Regions from separate parts of the Homo sapiens genome. Here region 1 is linked to region 2. The links come from fine-mapping of genetic effects on gene expression. Tissue or cell type: fibroblasts. Region 2 holds a variant in brackets; the other region holds the start of a gene. All regions are shown on one strand. Distances are from middle to middle.

Region 1 (8,000 bases), 42 kb after region 2:
TGGAAATTTTTTAGATAAAATGCACTTATAAGTTAAATTATTACCACATGTGCACAGTAATAATCAGTGAAGGTATACCAGTGTCAGTTTAAAACATTGTTATGCCTGTAATCTCAGCACTTTGGGAGGCAGAAGTGGGAGGATCACCTTGCTCCCAGGAGTTTGAGACCACCCTGGGCAACACAGCAAAATGCTATCTCTATAAAAATAATAAAAATTAAAAAAAGTAGCCAGGTAAGGCGGGAATAACACTTAAACCAAGGAGTTTGAGGCTGAAGTGAGCTATGATAATGCCACTGCACTCCAGCCTGGGTGACAGACCATGAGTGACTCTGTCATTCATTCATAATATATACATACAGCATTGCTAAAATGCTTGATAACTGTCAAAAGAATATTGCTCTGACATACATCTGCAAATAAGTAAGGTGACTTTAAATTTGAGGAAAATTCTTTCCCCAAGCCTCAATCAGGAAAACAATATAAACTAATAAGAAGTATCTAATAAACAAAAAGTAAACAAGAATATTATATAAGTAAACAGGCACAATCCTGACCAAAAATGGACAGAAATAAATATGCTAAAGTTAAGTGTCTGGGGGATGTAGGGCAACATTACTTCAGATTGGTAAATGTCACACTTCAAAAATAGAAGGAATCTACCTTAAGAAACTCTGTAGTAAGAAAACCTCCTTTGTATAAATGCCTGACAAAATTAATCTTTTATCATAACCTCTAAAGCTAGTCCAAATCCAGCCTAGATTCCAGAATTACACAAAAGAAAAAATCTTGGAGACGGTTCTGGGAAAAGGCTGACCAAAATCTGTGACTGTTTTGATACAGGCCAATCTGAGAATTTTAATCCCTCTGAACCCAATCCTGCAGAATACCTGAACCCTGAGCACAGACGGGGCCAAAGCTAAACCAGGTCAGAATACCCTGCCAAGGAACATCCTGATCTGAGGTGTTCACCAAACAGGGATCATTTATCAGTTTATTCTTCACTTTGTTGGATGCTGACCATTTTCAAGATATATGCAAGAGTGGACTGATTAGACCCATCAGAATCCATTTCAAGCCCTAAGATCTGGAGATGAAAAATACTGCAGAATTCTAAATTATCTATGGCTTAAAGAAAAAAAATTATAAATTAAGAACTTCAAATATTAGCTGACCCAACTTTAACATCATTGAATATCTTTAATTATTTAAAAAAATTTATAAAGTATTTCAAAGGCACAATTTAGTAATTGCCTATGTAACAAATTAACCATGAAAACAATTACAGCAGTATGATAAATCTGTCCTATGTAAACAGTATGAGTTTTTATATTTTATAGCATTCAGATATGCTAAAAACAAAAATTTAAGTGTTTCTTTTGTGATTCACATGAACAAATACTTTCTTGGTCTTACAAGTAGATATCTGACAGGATACAAATAATGATAATAGGGTAAGTTCACAGGCAAAAAAAGGAATCTGTCAACACAGAAGATGCTTCAAAGTTTAACTGTGACACATGTGGTAGTGGCAAAGAATCTAATTTGTGTCACAAGATCTGAGTCTGAGTAAGCTCTTTTACCTATTAATTATGTGATCTTTTTGCTGGTTACATAGCTACTCTTAGCTTCACATTCTTCATATGAAAAAATGAGGACAACAGAACTAATACTGCAGCATAATGAGGAAGCTTAAATATTTTTATTCATTCAACAAATATGTTCTGAAAGGCGTTGTGTACAAATTACCCTTTTTTATTTCTTCAAATAAATCAAGCATATATTAACTTTTAATATTACCAAGAAAATATAAATCTAATTCTTAAGCTCTGGTTCCAAAACTTCTTAGAAGTAAATTTTTATTACCTGAGAAAATGTGAACTTAAGTAATAAGTATTGATACTGAAGAAGGGACAGTTGAGTTTGTGTCAAAACTTAAAACTGTTTTGACACAAAATAAATAAAAACAATTCCCTAAATTTTTTTCCTATTGAACAGAAATACGGACCCAGACTAAGCCCATAAATTGCTGGGTCAATAACCAATCTGAAATACAAAACCTTACCACTTAAAAATATTTATTTTCAGGAAAATGATATTAAATATGAGGTAAATCTGCCCTTGACATAACACGGTGAGATTGTTTTCATAACACAGCACATGAACCACTTAAAACTTACAACCTATAAATTACTACAATTGTTCTAATAGGTTTAGGGCCATACATAAATTTAAGTATCATTATAACACAGACTTTACTTGGAATCTGTGCTGACCTAACAAAATTAGCACAGAAAAAAAAAAAAAATCACAGATTTGAGCACCTGAAAAACGGTGTCCTTTCTGAAATATCTGCAAAAAAGTCACAACATCAGGAGCCATAGAAAGTTGTTATTTCTCCATCATTCAAAAAATCAAAACATCTCCAACATTATTTATGCTAAGCATAAAATGAAGGTCAGTATTGATATTCATTCACTATACTTCAAATCCTAAACAAGAAAATTCAACCTTTATGTTTATTCAATTGCTAATCTATTCAGTGTCAATTGTTGTGGAAGAACTAAGAACTAGACTAGTGCTGCTTATAATGTTTTTAATTAGAACAGACTTGGACCAATTCTACTTAGAAATTTACCCTTAGAAGAGGTGAAAGATATTAACTGGCATCTTTTCAGCACAGGTCAGTGCTGAAAAGAACACAACCTATAACCCTTAGGCCTTGCAGTTGAATGTTAACAAGTGAAAAGCAATCTCCTTGGATGTATCCAAGCGATTTTAATATAAATTTCTGCATACCTAGGTAGAAAGTACTTTAGAAATAAATCTACCTTTTCCCTCACTTGTAAGAAAATGTGGTAGAAGCCTTGAAAAATTAAGTTTAAGGCTGAGCGAGGTGGCTCACGCCTGTAATCCAAGCACTTTGGGAGGCGGAGGAGGGCAGATGACTTGAGGTCAGGAGTTCCAGACCAGCCTGGCCAACATGGTGAAACCCCGTCTCTACTAAAAATACAAAAATCAGCCGGGCATGGTGGCGGGCGCCTGTAATCCCAGCTACTCCGGATGGTGAGGCAGGAGAATCGCTTGAATCCGGGAGGTGGAGGCTGTAGTGAGCCGAGATTGTGCCACTGCAATCCAGCCTGGGTGACAGAGCAAGACTCCGTCGCAAAACAAAACAAAAACGAAATCAAATTTCAAACTCAGAGAAAAGACTGGTCTTGAACAATTTCAGGAAAAATTACTGAAACACGAGACAAGGCACAAGAAGCTCTATGGCCGGAGATGAACCACCTGTCTCCTTTCGAAGTGCTTCCTGAGGTCCACTTTATGCTAGTTAATGTTGCTTCTTATACTGCATGTTAGTAATTCAAAACGCCTAGCTGGAATAAAAGTCCTCTTTAAACATTACAGTTTGTCTCCGCGTTGCCAGTGTTTGTTTCCAGTTTCATAGGCTATTCTGGTATGTCAAGAGTTGTGTTATTACTGTTCCAAAAGAGCCCTTGTTTCAATCCACTCTCACCTGGGATGCGGGCATAACTGATGTTTATAGAACTGATACTTAGAGATGTTTAGAGAGGCGCATCCCTTACCACTCCATCCTTTACCGATAACCACATTTTATATGTTTTTGTTGCATTTAAGTTTTTTGTTTTTTTTTTTTAAAGACACCTGCACACACACAATTTTCCCATCGCCAGCAGGGAGAAGACTACCAGGCTAGATCTCCAGGGACTTCAGGGAAACAGACACCGTGAAATCCACTTGGCCAAAGAAGGGGAGCGCTTCAGGGGCTGGGGGAGGAAGCAGCCCTGAGGTGCTGGGAGGCCGAGGCGGCGCCTGTTTACAGACGCCTTCGCCCTCCCCCACCCCCACAGACTAGGGGTCCAAAAAGCAGTTCCCGTGCGCATTCCCCGCCTGGCCCAGGCCCTGGGAGTACCACAGGAGCCAGGTAGCCCTTTCGCCCCCTCCCTCTCGTCCGAGCCTCCCTTCGTCCTCCTCTCGGCCTACCTACCCCGACAGGCCCTACAGGCGGCATGCAGAGGCCTGAGGCCTAAAGGACGCCGGCCACTGACAAGCCCCAGAACAGCCGGCGGGGGCCCTGAGGAGCCTGGGGCCGGCCGGGCTGCCGCTGCCGCGGAGGAGCAGAGGGCGGGCGAGGACAAACCCTTCCCGACCACAGCTGCCTATTGTTCCCGACTGAGGCCCCGGCCGCGGCAGCCCCGCTCCCCAAGTCGCCGCCCGCCGCTCGCTCACCGCGCTGGTCCGAGCAGCAGCTCCTCTCAGCTCCGAGTCCCCGCGGCCGTCGCCACCGCCGCGGCAGCCGCCGCCGCCGCCGAGGCCACCGTTGACTCTGATTCTGTCCCAGGCCGCCGGGCCACGGCTGCCGCCGCCACCGCCAGCACCGCCTCCGGCCTCCCACCTGCTGCTGCTGAGGCTGCTCCTGCAGCAGGGGCCATCTTGTTGCTCGGCCTCCTCTTCCTCCTCCTCGTCCTCCGCCGCCCAGTCGCTCGTTGTCCTCGTCCCCTTCCTCTTCCTCAGGCTCCGGCCCGCCCCGGAGACTGGGGCGGAGACGAGGGCGAGGATCCTCCCTCAGGAGGCGGGGCGGGCGGAGGGGAGGGGCGGGCGCGGGAGCAAAGCTCTGAGTCACCGGCCACCAACGCCCGGAGGGAGACCGGCGACGCTCTCCGCCGCGACCGAAAGTCTCACACGCCCTGAGCAGATGAACCGGTCCCTCGGTCCGGTCTGCCCTCCCGCACCGGCGCCTTTGGGCTCAGCGGGCCAGTGGCCAGATGGCGAGAGTAAATTGGGGGAATTTCTTTCGTTTCCATCGAACCCCACACTACGTCTACTCTTTCGGCTTTCTCAGCCGTTGTCCCCCAACTCTTGTTTCTTTTTCACGTCTTGTCCCCCACCCCATTTTTCTTCTTCCATATTATCCAGGTTCTGGATCTCATCAGCTTTGTCCTCGTCACCCCTCTGGGAGTTCAGCCTCCTAAGGCTGTGAAACAGCCCAAAAGGCCCGGACACGCTACTCCAAAACGTCTCTCCTGGGCTGTGTGAACAATAAGAGCTATTTGGGGACGACAGGAAAAGATATGGCCCATAGAAGGGCTCCTGAAATCTAACCTTGCGACTCTTTAAAAGTTTCTTGTCCCTTGTGGAAAAGGTGCCGTTTTGGTTTTGGGGAATGGGAGGTCCCTTCAGACAATTCATTTTAGCCAAACCCTCGCTTTTGAGAAGGGGAAGAAATGGGATTATTGTAACACCATACAGTACTAATTTCAAAATAAATCATCTAGAATAGAGGAGAGAGAGAGTCCCCAAATAAACAACCATTTAATACCTCTACTCGGCGCTATCACCTTTTTTGCTTCAGGATTTGACCAAGAGAGCAGAGATTATGTTTTTCTGTCCTTTCTTCACTGTTTACATCACAGTACCCCAAGAGAAGCACTTCTGCCTTTAACTTGATACATTGGAATCGCTATCACAGATAGTGTTTTTGTATTATTTTTAAGAAATATCACACACCTTCCTAAACTCTTGGCAGAGAAGAATTCTTTTTAGTTGTTAGCACCCTCCTGCTACTGAGATCTCAGCTTCTGTTTAGAAGACCTATTGTTGTCTTTCCACTGATTGGAATTTGCTGCCTCTGAACTGGGTTTAATCTGTAATCGTCTTTTCAGCCTACTAAATAGTAACCCCAGTCCTACAGAGAGTGAATTTCTAGCTACCACAGGGGGATTTAGGTTAGCATGTGCCAATCTAAAGGGATCTCTTAAAGCCTTTCCCTTCTCAGACCAGGCCTCTGTACCCTGCTAGGAAAAACAGATTAATCTGCTCCTCCTGCTTTTCCTCCTCCTCCCTTCTTCTCACTCCTAGGGAACCTTCCACAACAGAAGGTTTTAGCGACTGTTGCTAGGCAAACATGCCAACTTCCTTGTTTAGGTGAAGCGAGTAACTCAACTTCCATTGCAAGTAACCTAGATAATGTAATTTCTTTGAACTATTAATAGTTATACCACAGTTGGTAAGGCTCCTTAAAGGTTCCCTTAAGCAGTATGATTTTTACGTTGTTTATTTTTATCTCGTCAATATTTCAATTAAAAATACGTTAAAGGACAGATAGATGCAGTGGCTCACGCCTGTAATCCCAACATTTTAGGAGGCTGAGGGGGGCGGATCACCTGAGGTCCGGAGCCTGACCAACGTGGAGAAACCCCATCTCTACTAAAAATACAAAAATTAGCCAGGTGTGGTGGCGTGCACCTATAGTCCTAGCTACTCGGGAGGCTGAGGCAGGAGAATCACTTGAACCTGGGAGGTGGAGGTTGTAGTGAGCCGAGATCACGCCATTGCACTCCAGTCTGGGCAAAAAGAGCTAAACTCTGTCTCAAAAAAAAAAAAAAAAAAAAAAAAAAAGTTAAAAATGGCGGCGCTTCCCCAAACCCAAATTCATTTTAGTGATATAAAGATGCATTTGACAGAAAAAGAAGAGCAGCTTTGAAGAAAACACTTATGCTTACAATAAAAAATAAAAAACTAATCTGTGAGAAGTCATATGTTTTCAACTCCCCAGTCAGACTAGAAGTGTAAGATACAGGGGATAAGGCCGGGAGCGGTGGCTCACGCTTGTAATCCCAGCACTTTGGGAGGCCGAGGCAGGCAGATCACGAGGTCAGGAGATGCAGACTATTCTGGCCAACATGGTGAAACCCCGTCTCTACCAAAAATACAAAAAGCCCGGCGTGGTGGCGCGCGCCTATAGTCCCAGCTACTCAGGAGACAGAGGCAGGAGAATCACTTGAACCTGAGAGGCAGAGGCTGCAGTGAGCCAAGATTGTACCACTGCACTCCAGCCTGGATGACAGCAAGACTCGGTCTTGGCAGAGCATTGTGGCCCACGCCTGTAATCCCAGCACTTTGGGAGGCTGAGGAGGGTGGCTCTCCTAAGGTCAGGAGTTCAAGACCAGCTTGGCCAACATGGTGAAACCCCGTCTCTACTAAAAATACAAAAAAATTAGCTGGGCGTGGTGGCAGGCACCTGTAATCCCATCTACTAGGGAGGCTGAGGCAGGAGAATCCTTTGAACCTGGGAGGCGGAGGTTGCAGTGAGCCGAGATCGTGCCATTGCACTCCAGCCTGGGCAACAAGAATGAAACTCCGTCTCAAAAAAAACACCAAAAATTAGCTGGGCATGGTGGTGCACGCTTGTAATCCCAGCTACTTGGGAGGCTGAGACAGGAGAATCGCTTGAACCTGGTAGGTGGAGGTTACAGTGAGCCGAGATCACGCCACTGCACTCCAGCCTGGCGACAGAGCAAGACTCCATCTCAAAAAAGAAAAAAAGAAAAAAAAAAGATACAGAGGATAATTTATCTCTTGAAATTGAGTCTATTTAAAATAAAGATAATATGAATATTCAGCAAGGGGGAAAAAAGATATTCTGGGTTTTATTCCTAAATTAACAATTATTTGAAAATTTAGCTAGGGAAATAAGCTTTTTTTAAAAATTTTATTTAAAATGTTTTTACTCTTGTTAGAGTATTGAGATTTGTTGTGAATTAATACAAATAAGATTAAATGAGGCTGAGCATGGCAGCTCATGCCTGTAATCCTAGCATTTTAGGAGGCTGAGGCAGGAGGATTGCTTGAGGCCAAGAGTTCAAGACCACCTGGCCAACATAGAAGACCTTGTCTCCATTTAATTAAAAAAAAATTTTTATAAAAGATTAATGACGCCAGGCAAGGTGGCTCACATCTGTAATCCCAGAACTTTGGGAGGCCGAGGCAGGCGGATCACCTGAGGCCAGGAGTTCGAGCCCAGCCTGGCCAACATGGCAAAGCCCCATCTCTACTAAAAATACAAAAATTGGCTGGATATGGTGGTACATGCCTGTAATCTCAGCTACTCAGGAGGCTGAGGCAGGAGAATTGCTTGAACCCGGGAGACGGAGGTTGCAGTGAGCCGAGATCACGCCACTGCACTCCAGCCTGGG
Region 2 (8,251 bases):
AATACAGTAAATTTGTGAGTTACATAAATTATATTTGAAGCTATGGGATAGATAAGATTATCTAGGAAACAGATATAGGATTAAACTCTGAGAACACTCCAAAGAGTACAGGATATGAAGATGAGAAAGCAGAGGATGCTGAGGAGAGTCCAATAAAGAAGAGAATTAGTAGCCTAGAAGCCAAGAAAAAAGCATTTCAAGGAAGAGAGAGTACAGAACAATGGCCAGGCATGGTGGCTCATGCCTGTAATCCTAGCACTTTGGGAGGCTGAGGCAGGCGGGTCACCTGAGTTCAGGAGTTTGAGAACAGCCTGGCCAAGATGGTGAAACCCTGTTTCTACTAAAGATACTAAAAATAAATAATAAGAATAATAAGAATAATAAATTAGCTGGATGTGGTGGTACAAGCCTGTAATCCTAGCTACTCGGGACAAGAATTGCTTGAACCAGGCAGAGGTTGCAGTGAACCGAGATCTTGCCATTGCCTCCAGCCTGGGGGACAGAGTGAAACTGTATCTCCAAAAAAAAAAAAAAAGTTAAATGCTGCTAAATCAAGTACAGTAAGAACTGAGAACTGACTTTTGGAATTAGCTACATGGAAGTAATTTATGACCTTGACAAAATAAGTTTGGATAGAGCAGTGGAGATAAATGCCTGACTGGAGTTGAGTTCAAGAGTGTGCCAAAAAAAGAAATGAAGTGGTAGGTAGATGAGAAATGGGGTCAAAAATGGTTTAGGAACTTGTGAAAGTTCTCTTTTGACTGCTCAGGATGATCAAAGGACAGCAGTCAGGGAAAAAAATCACTATATATTCTAGTAACATTGATCTGGTTTACTAAGCAATTTTGGGAGCAAATCTATAAAAGTAGGCTGATAAAAAACTAAGAGGGCTCTGAATGCCATAGTCAAGAGTGTCAAACCTTATTCCGTAAGCAATTCTACAAACAATGAAAGTTTATGAGTGTGGAAGGAAGATCAGGGATGTGATTTCTTTTTTTTTTTTTTTTTGAGACGGAGTCTCGCTCTGTTGCCCAGGCTGGAGTGCAGTGGTGCAGTCTCGGCTCACTGCAAACTCTGCCGCCCGGGTTCACACCACTCTCCTGCCTCAGCCTCCCGAGTAGCTGGGACTACAGGCGCCCGCCACCATGCCCAGCTAATTTTTTTTGTATTTTTAGTAGAGACGGGGTTTCATCGTGCTGGCCAGGATGGTCTCGATCTCCTGACCTCGTGATCCGCCCGCCTCGGCCTCCCAAAGTGCTGGGATTACAGGCGTAAGCCACTGTGTCAGGCCAGGGATGTGATTTCTTTTACAGCAGTAAGTAGACTGGATTGGAGGAACTCATAGTAGAGGAACTTGGAAGACATTCAGTCTCAGGAAAAAGGAGGCTCTCAAAGGAATTAATTATAAGCAGGGGATATAGGGGTATTGTGAAAGAAGAACAGATAAATCCCATTGTATGAAACAGTATGTAGAACAAGTGAAAGGAAAAGATGAGACAAGACAAAACATTAAGGTTTTAAACTTACATACCTCAGAGAATGAGGTCATTATCAGAAAGAGGAAACATTAAAGGAAGAGCAAGTATCAAGAAATGATGAGCTTGCTTTGAAGCACTCAGAGGACACGATGGGGAATCTCAGCAAGCACTGGGAGATGTATCTGGAGTGATGCAGAGATAATAGTGATAGAGATATTTGGGAGTCTGTATTCTACACTAAGGTAATACCTGATGCTAAGAATGAATAACCACCATCAGAGCATGTAGAGAAAACAAAATTCCAAGAGCATAACCTGCCTACTCTTTAGTGGGCAGGAGGGGAAGGCATGGTACAAATAAGACAGAAGTAGCACTCAGGTCAGAAGAGAACTATGAGATCACAGAAAGATATCAAAAAAGTGCTCAACAACATTATCGAAATGCTGAAAACAAATGGGAGTGATTTAAAGACTAAGACAAAGCTTTTGGAATCAGAGACTGGGAATCTACTAGTGAATATTAAGAGAGCTTCAGATCAGTAGTAGGAATAAACACAGAGAAGCTAAAATAACTTAGATGTAAGTGCAAGTTGAAAAATGAAGGTTGGGTATATTTTCAGGTTACGGAGAAGGAGCAGAAAAAGCCTAAGTAAAGATATACAAGACAGGATACTTGAAGGAACAAGATATCATGGAGAGGGCAAAAACAGGATCAAGGAAATGCAACTAAGGATACATAATACAGAAAAAAATGAGAAAAACGAGATTTGGAAGAGGTAAGAATGGTAAAATACAACACAATTTTGTGACGGGAGAAAGAAGAAACATAAAGAAGCCCAGAGAAATCTATTTTCCTGATGAAATGAGCAACAGTATAAAAAGTATTAAATAAATATTAAAGTGAACTAACCTGAGATAAAGAGGGAAAAGATTTAAAATGGAAACTTAAAATACTGTAAAAAAGATCTGGAGTAACTACTTTGGGAAACCCTAGAGGAACAACAAAAGATAATTAAAGAATCATTGAGCAGCACGAAAGGCACATATAAGATAGTCCATTAATTTCCCGTGGGTTTACCTGGACTAGGGTCAATGTTTGCTAACAGCTCCAAATGGGGTCTTAGTCGGTTCAAGTTTGCTGGGTCTCCAGTTCGCTGGAGAGCAATTGTTAGTTCCTGAACACTCTGTGCAAAAGAGGCTGGAGTCTGCAACTTAAAAAAGATAAATGTTAACTTTCCCAAAGGTCAGATAATCCTTTAAATATAAAGATTATTTATATCACAATCATTTTTGCGATTTATTAAATTTAATTTTTATCTTCCCATATACCCTACACTTTGGCCAGAGTAGATTACTTGCTACCCAAATAAATTCTGTACTTCTCTGCATCCAGAGCTTGGCACATTGTGTACTGTATTGCCTCTGCTGTCACATTCTTCAAATGTGAGACCTCTCTCAATTCAGCCTACCATCAATTAGATATACTGATGAGTCTTCTTTGTGAATTGTTAATTCCTGTTTCTCTCCCCATTAATTTACTAGAATTAGTGCTTTCCTCATCGCTTTTAATAAATTCTCTTTTCTATTATCCAATATGGTGACCTTGGCAATATGTGGCTATTTAAATTTAAGTTAATTAAATGAAATAAAAATTTCAGTTCATCCGTTGCAAAAGTCACATTTCAAATGCTTAATGGCCGTGTGTGACTAGTGATCACCATATTGGACAGTGCATACACAGAACATTTTCATGATTACAGAAAGTTCTATTGCTCTATAAAATATCACACACACTGCAAAGTTTACCAGTTTGTTGTGCAAAGGTCTCTGGATATTAAATTTAAAGCACTGCGTGTGATATGAGAAAATTACTGTAGGATATACACCTAGTTACACAGTTCAGTTCAGACAAGATTAACCACCTTGTAGAATCTTTATAAAAGACAAGCCAAGCCAGGCCAGGCACAGTGGCTCACGCCTGTAATCCTAGCACTTTGGGAGGCTGTGGTGGGCAGATGACGATGTCAGGAGTTCGAAACCAGCCTGGCCAACATGGTGAAACCCCGTCTCTACTAAAGATACAAAAAATTTGGGCGTGGTACAGGGTGTGGTAGTGCGTGCCTGTAATCCCAGCTACTTGGGAGGCTGAGGCAGGAGAATCGCTTGAACCTGGGAGACAGAGATTGCAGTGAGCCGAGATAGTGCCATTGCACTCCAGCCTGGGTGACAGGGTGAGACTCTGTCTCAAACAAACAAACAAACAAAAAAAGCCAAGTTTCTCTTCAGAGGTAGAAAGGTACTCCTCTAATAGATCATTACTAAGCGTTAAGCGTTTCCGTAAATTATAAATGAGTTGCAAAACTTCCGATACAAGCTCCTGTCCAAACCTAAGAGTTGCAGGTAAAGTCTGGTTAAAGGTATCCAGGGAAGACTTATAGAGCAGAGCAAACAACCTACATTGTAACTGAAAATTATGTACCGCCTTTTTATCCCCCCTAAAGAGACAGGGTCTCACTCTGTTGCCGAGGTGCTAACATAGCTCACTGCACCCTCAAACTCCTGAGCTCAAGGGATTCTCCCACCATAGCCTCCCAGGTAGCTGAGACTATAGGCGCCTACCACCACACCTGGCTATTTTTTTTTTTTTTTGGTAGAGATGAGTGTCCCAATGTTTCCCAGGCTGTGACTGAACTCCTGGCCTCAAGCAA[T/TC]CCCCCCACCTTGGCCTCTCAAAGTGCTGAGATTACAGGCATCAGCCACTGTGCCCACCCTACACCAAGCATTTAAAAAACATATTTCCCAATTCTCACTGTATTACCCATTCAAGGAATTCTATCTTTAGAAATAGGAAAAAAAAAAAAAAAAAAAAGGTGGGGGGGAATAGTCTGGTAAAAGGTTAGTGTACTCTACACTGAGAATGGTCAAGTTCAAATCCACTTCTGTCATTTATTATCTATGTGATGCTGGAAAAACATATTAACTTCCCTTTGTCTTTGTCTAAAATGGATAATACAGGGCTGTTGAGAGGATTAAATGAATTATTTAAAACCACTAGATACATATTAAGATTTTAGTAAATGTTCATTATTTTTTTTTTAGGTTACTCTTACTATTTGACTCTATTTCTCTAAATTAAATGTAGAGTGGTCTCTAGAGTTGGCCTTCATCTCTGTGATTCTAGTAAAAATACAATAAAATATAAAATAAGTAAAATAAAAAATATAAACTAATCAAATCTTTAAATGAACAAAGTGGTATTATAACGTGATTGGTTATGACATGACACTGGCTATAAATACAATTTACAAAAGCTATACAGTATTCACTTTAATATACATTTGTTAAATGAATTACCAAAATGCCAAGATTAGTCTAAGAAGTAAGGAACAAAAAAGGTCCTACCTTGTCAATAATGGACTGCATATGAGATTTGTGAGACTGGTCTCCATAAAGCAAAGAGGACCACTGGTCCGGTGCAATTCGTAAGCCTGCTTCCATAGCAATCTGCACTATCTGGGAGTCATGTTCTCGCCGCAGAGCTTCATAGGTTCTAAATTCTTCTTTCAGCTGCATCAAAGAAGAGTCTTCATCACGTTTGGTGACCTAATAAGACACAAATAATCTCATAATGAAGTCAAAAAAATGAGTTTATGCTTTATATGAACATATAATTTTTAATGTAACAAATTTAGCATCAACAGCAAGATTAAATGAATATACCATTTGCCTGCAAAATATTTTCTCCTTAACTTGTTGAGGTAGGTATATTGCTATCATCCCATTCTGAGTCAAGTTGGATTTAGGCCAACATTTTCTGGATAGGTCTTTCAGAAAGAATAAATACAGGCTGAGAATCTCTTACCCAAAATGCTTGGGCCAGAAGTGTTATCAGATTTCAGATTTTTTCAAATTTTAGAATATCTGCATTAAACCACTTGAGCATCCTTACTCTGAAAATCTGAAATGCCCCAATGAGCATGTGAGCATCATGTTGGTGTTCAAAAAGTTTTGGATTTTGGATTTTTGTATAGTCAATCTGTATGTGCTGGAATGAAATCCAAAGATTTGACATACTTTAACATATACATTCAGTTTAAGGTGTATGTGTGTGTATATGTATTTTTGAAAAGAAAAAAATACTAATACAATTCTATATTCTGAAAAACAATATGTTTCTTCTCCATAAATGTGGATTATGACTCTTGGGATTGCCTGACAATGAGCTAGGTGGGACTGATGACTGTAGAGCTTCAGATGCTGGTGTAATTCTAAAAATGATTTAATTTGTACTTGGCTTAATTCTTCATGGAGTTTTGTGGGATGGGCTACTACCAGAAAGTGTAAAGTGTGAGATGCTAGACTAGAATAATCATAATGATTATGATTAGAAGGCTGGAGGCAGGAGAATTGCTTGACCCAGAAGGCAGAGGATGCAGTGAGCCAAGACTACACCACTGCACTCCAGCCTGGGCGACAGAGCAAGACTGCATCTCAAAAAAAAAAGTCAGAAAAATAATACTGGATGTACAATAAATGATACATAGTGAGTAGCAATGTTTGAGGCGGTGCTTATTCAATTTGGGATAAGAGACTATGTCCAGCATTACCATATAAACTGAAATGGCAAATGGAACTTCATTATTGTATATGTGGAATTACACTAGGAGAAAATCTCTGAATAAAATTTATTTGGCTGGGCGCGGTGGCTCACGCTTGTAATCCCAGCACTTTGGGAGGCTGAGGCGGGCAGATCACCTGAGGTCAGGAGTTCGAGACCAGCCTGGCCAACATGGCGAAACCCCGTCTCTACCAAAAATACAAAAAGTAGCCAGGTGCAGTGGCCCTGCCTATAATCCCAGCTACTCGGGAGGCTGAGACAGGAGAATCGCTTGAACGCAGGAGGTGGAGGTTGCAGTGAGCCGAGATCATGCACTGCACTCCAGCCTGGGCGACAGCAAGACTTTGTCTCAAAAAAATAAAAATAAATAAATAAAATTTATTTGTGCTTCAATAACTCTCTCTTCAGACCAATTCTGCACAGTCTTGGTAAGAAATTGATATAGTTTCTTAGTCTCTTCAAATACAAAAATCTATAAACCTTGACTTGATCTATGTTGTTCAATATTGAACATACAAAAATTCAATATAATAGTATTTAACTATAATAAGACCCCATCTACATTCTTTAAAAGAATAAAGAAAAATTGCTGAGATTTTCTGAAAAGATACAGGCAACTTTATTAAACTCAAAGTTTTACTACTTAACTTTGGGGAAAGAACAATATTTCCTTTCAAGCTGAGCTTTAATGTAGGTTCATACCTTGAAACAGGAGGCTCTATAAAGGAGCTGAACAACATGCCCAATGCTAGTTTTAGAGGCTTGAGGAAACCGTGGCTCCAATCTTTGCACCACAAACAGAACCAATACTTTTCTTGACAAAGCAGAACCATCTTCTAAGGCCAGCAGAACCAACTTTAAAGCTTCCTCCTGCATTGCTAGGGAAAGTTGGGCAAAACCAAAATTTATCAAGTACATAGATAAGATAAATCCATTTATTAGAAGGGGAATATTTAATCATTTCTGCAGCTATTCAATTAACTGGCAATACAGTTAAGATTAACCAGCAACACACTTTTACACCATTTTTGTGAGCAATTTTGTATTACATTCTATATATTTTATAAAGAAAACAGATAAAGTGATTAATAAATTTAAGAAAAACTTCTATCAAAATGAATGAACTTCCTGCTACAGGTGTGAAAAAAAGGAAAAATCAAAAAATTAAAAAAAGAAACAACTTTTGGCATTAAGAGAAAAGTTTTAAGTTCACTAAGTTCACCTAGTAAGTCCACTAAGTTACATGGAATTGCCCAAGCCATGAACATCAAACAAGATATTAGTTGGTAACAATAAAATACTGCAAAGAACTAGGCTTTGTACATCACTTATAATTCCTACATCATACTTTTAGAATTACCAGCAGAATAAATACCTAAAGTTAATTATGTACCTGGTCCAAGGAACTGGCATCCCCTAGCCCTTACTGCTGCCCAAAGATTGGAAGAGAGTTGCTGAGGATTCTGGTGCTGGAGAATGAGCTCTGTAACTGTTCGTTCACCTAAAGATCGAGCTGCCCTCATGGCACGAATCCTGCCTTCTTCTTCTACTAGTTGACAGTGGACTAGAGTCACAAGCTTCCTCTGCATTGGGCGACTCAGAACACTCTGAGTAGTGCTGTTCAGACCCACTCCTTTAAAAGAGTAAAGAAGTTATTCCTAGGTTCACAATGCAATTTTACAGTCCAGGAGCAATTCTTCTGTTGGGTTAACTTGTGGGTATGTGACTAGTTCTGGGACTACTAGAGTATTTAAAATAAGCAACAAATAAAACCACACATGTAAAGCTTACTTAAGTATACATTTTTAAAGTATACAAATGTATACATGAGTTATCTCATGTGCACTTAGCATTCATTATGACATTAAATATACCATTACTCATTTTAATCATAGAGGAAGAAAGAAAAAAGGACTAGACAACATTGATAATTAGTTTATAATGTAAATCTTGAAGTCCTAAGAGTTCTGGTATATTATTTGACAGTGGTTAACCTTATTTTCCTAATTAAATAGCAAGCCCTTTCTGTGCAGTAATGGCAACTTCCGTATTCATTATACCGCCTATAGCATAGCATATAAAACTGGATAGAAGGCAAACCATTCAGAATTGTCAAATGATGGAAAGCACTGCTGAAGTAAGTAGTTATATTTGCTATT

Evidence for each region. PIP is the estimated chance that this variant, and not a neighbour inherited with it, causes the effect.
Region 1: RC3H1 starts here. The variant in region 2 is fine-mapped to the expression of RC3H1 in fibroblasts (GTEx, PIP 0.96).

The regions. Positions count from the first base shown.
Region 1 is chr1:174,017,842-174,025,841 of GRCh38, forward strand. It overlaps RC3H1 (ring finger and CCCH-type domains 1), which reads right to left and starts at 4,516. Exons shown (of 20, transcript NM_172071.4): 1 at 4,255-4,516. RC3H1-DT (RC3H1 divergent transcript) reads left to right here and starts at 4,642. Exons shown (of 2, transcript NR_187284.1): 1 at 4,642-4,799; 2 at 4,942-5,349. RefSeq lists enhancers at 3,142-3,261, 3,326-3,865 and silencers at 4,072-4,391, 4,502-4,751.
Region 2 is chr1:173,975,933-173,984,183 of GRCh38, forward strand. RC3H1 (ring finger and CCCH-type domains 1) reads right to left here. Exons shown (of 20, transcript NM_172071.4): 4 at 7,486-7,725; 5 at 6,795-6,970; 6 at 4,877-5,077; 7 at 2,556-2,688. Among named protein-coding and RNA genes, the nearest start is that of RC3H1, 42 kb to the right of the region's middle. The variant T/TC (reference allele first, on the strand shown) is at 4,186.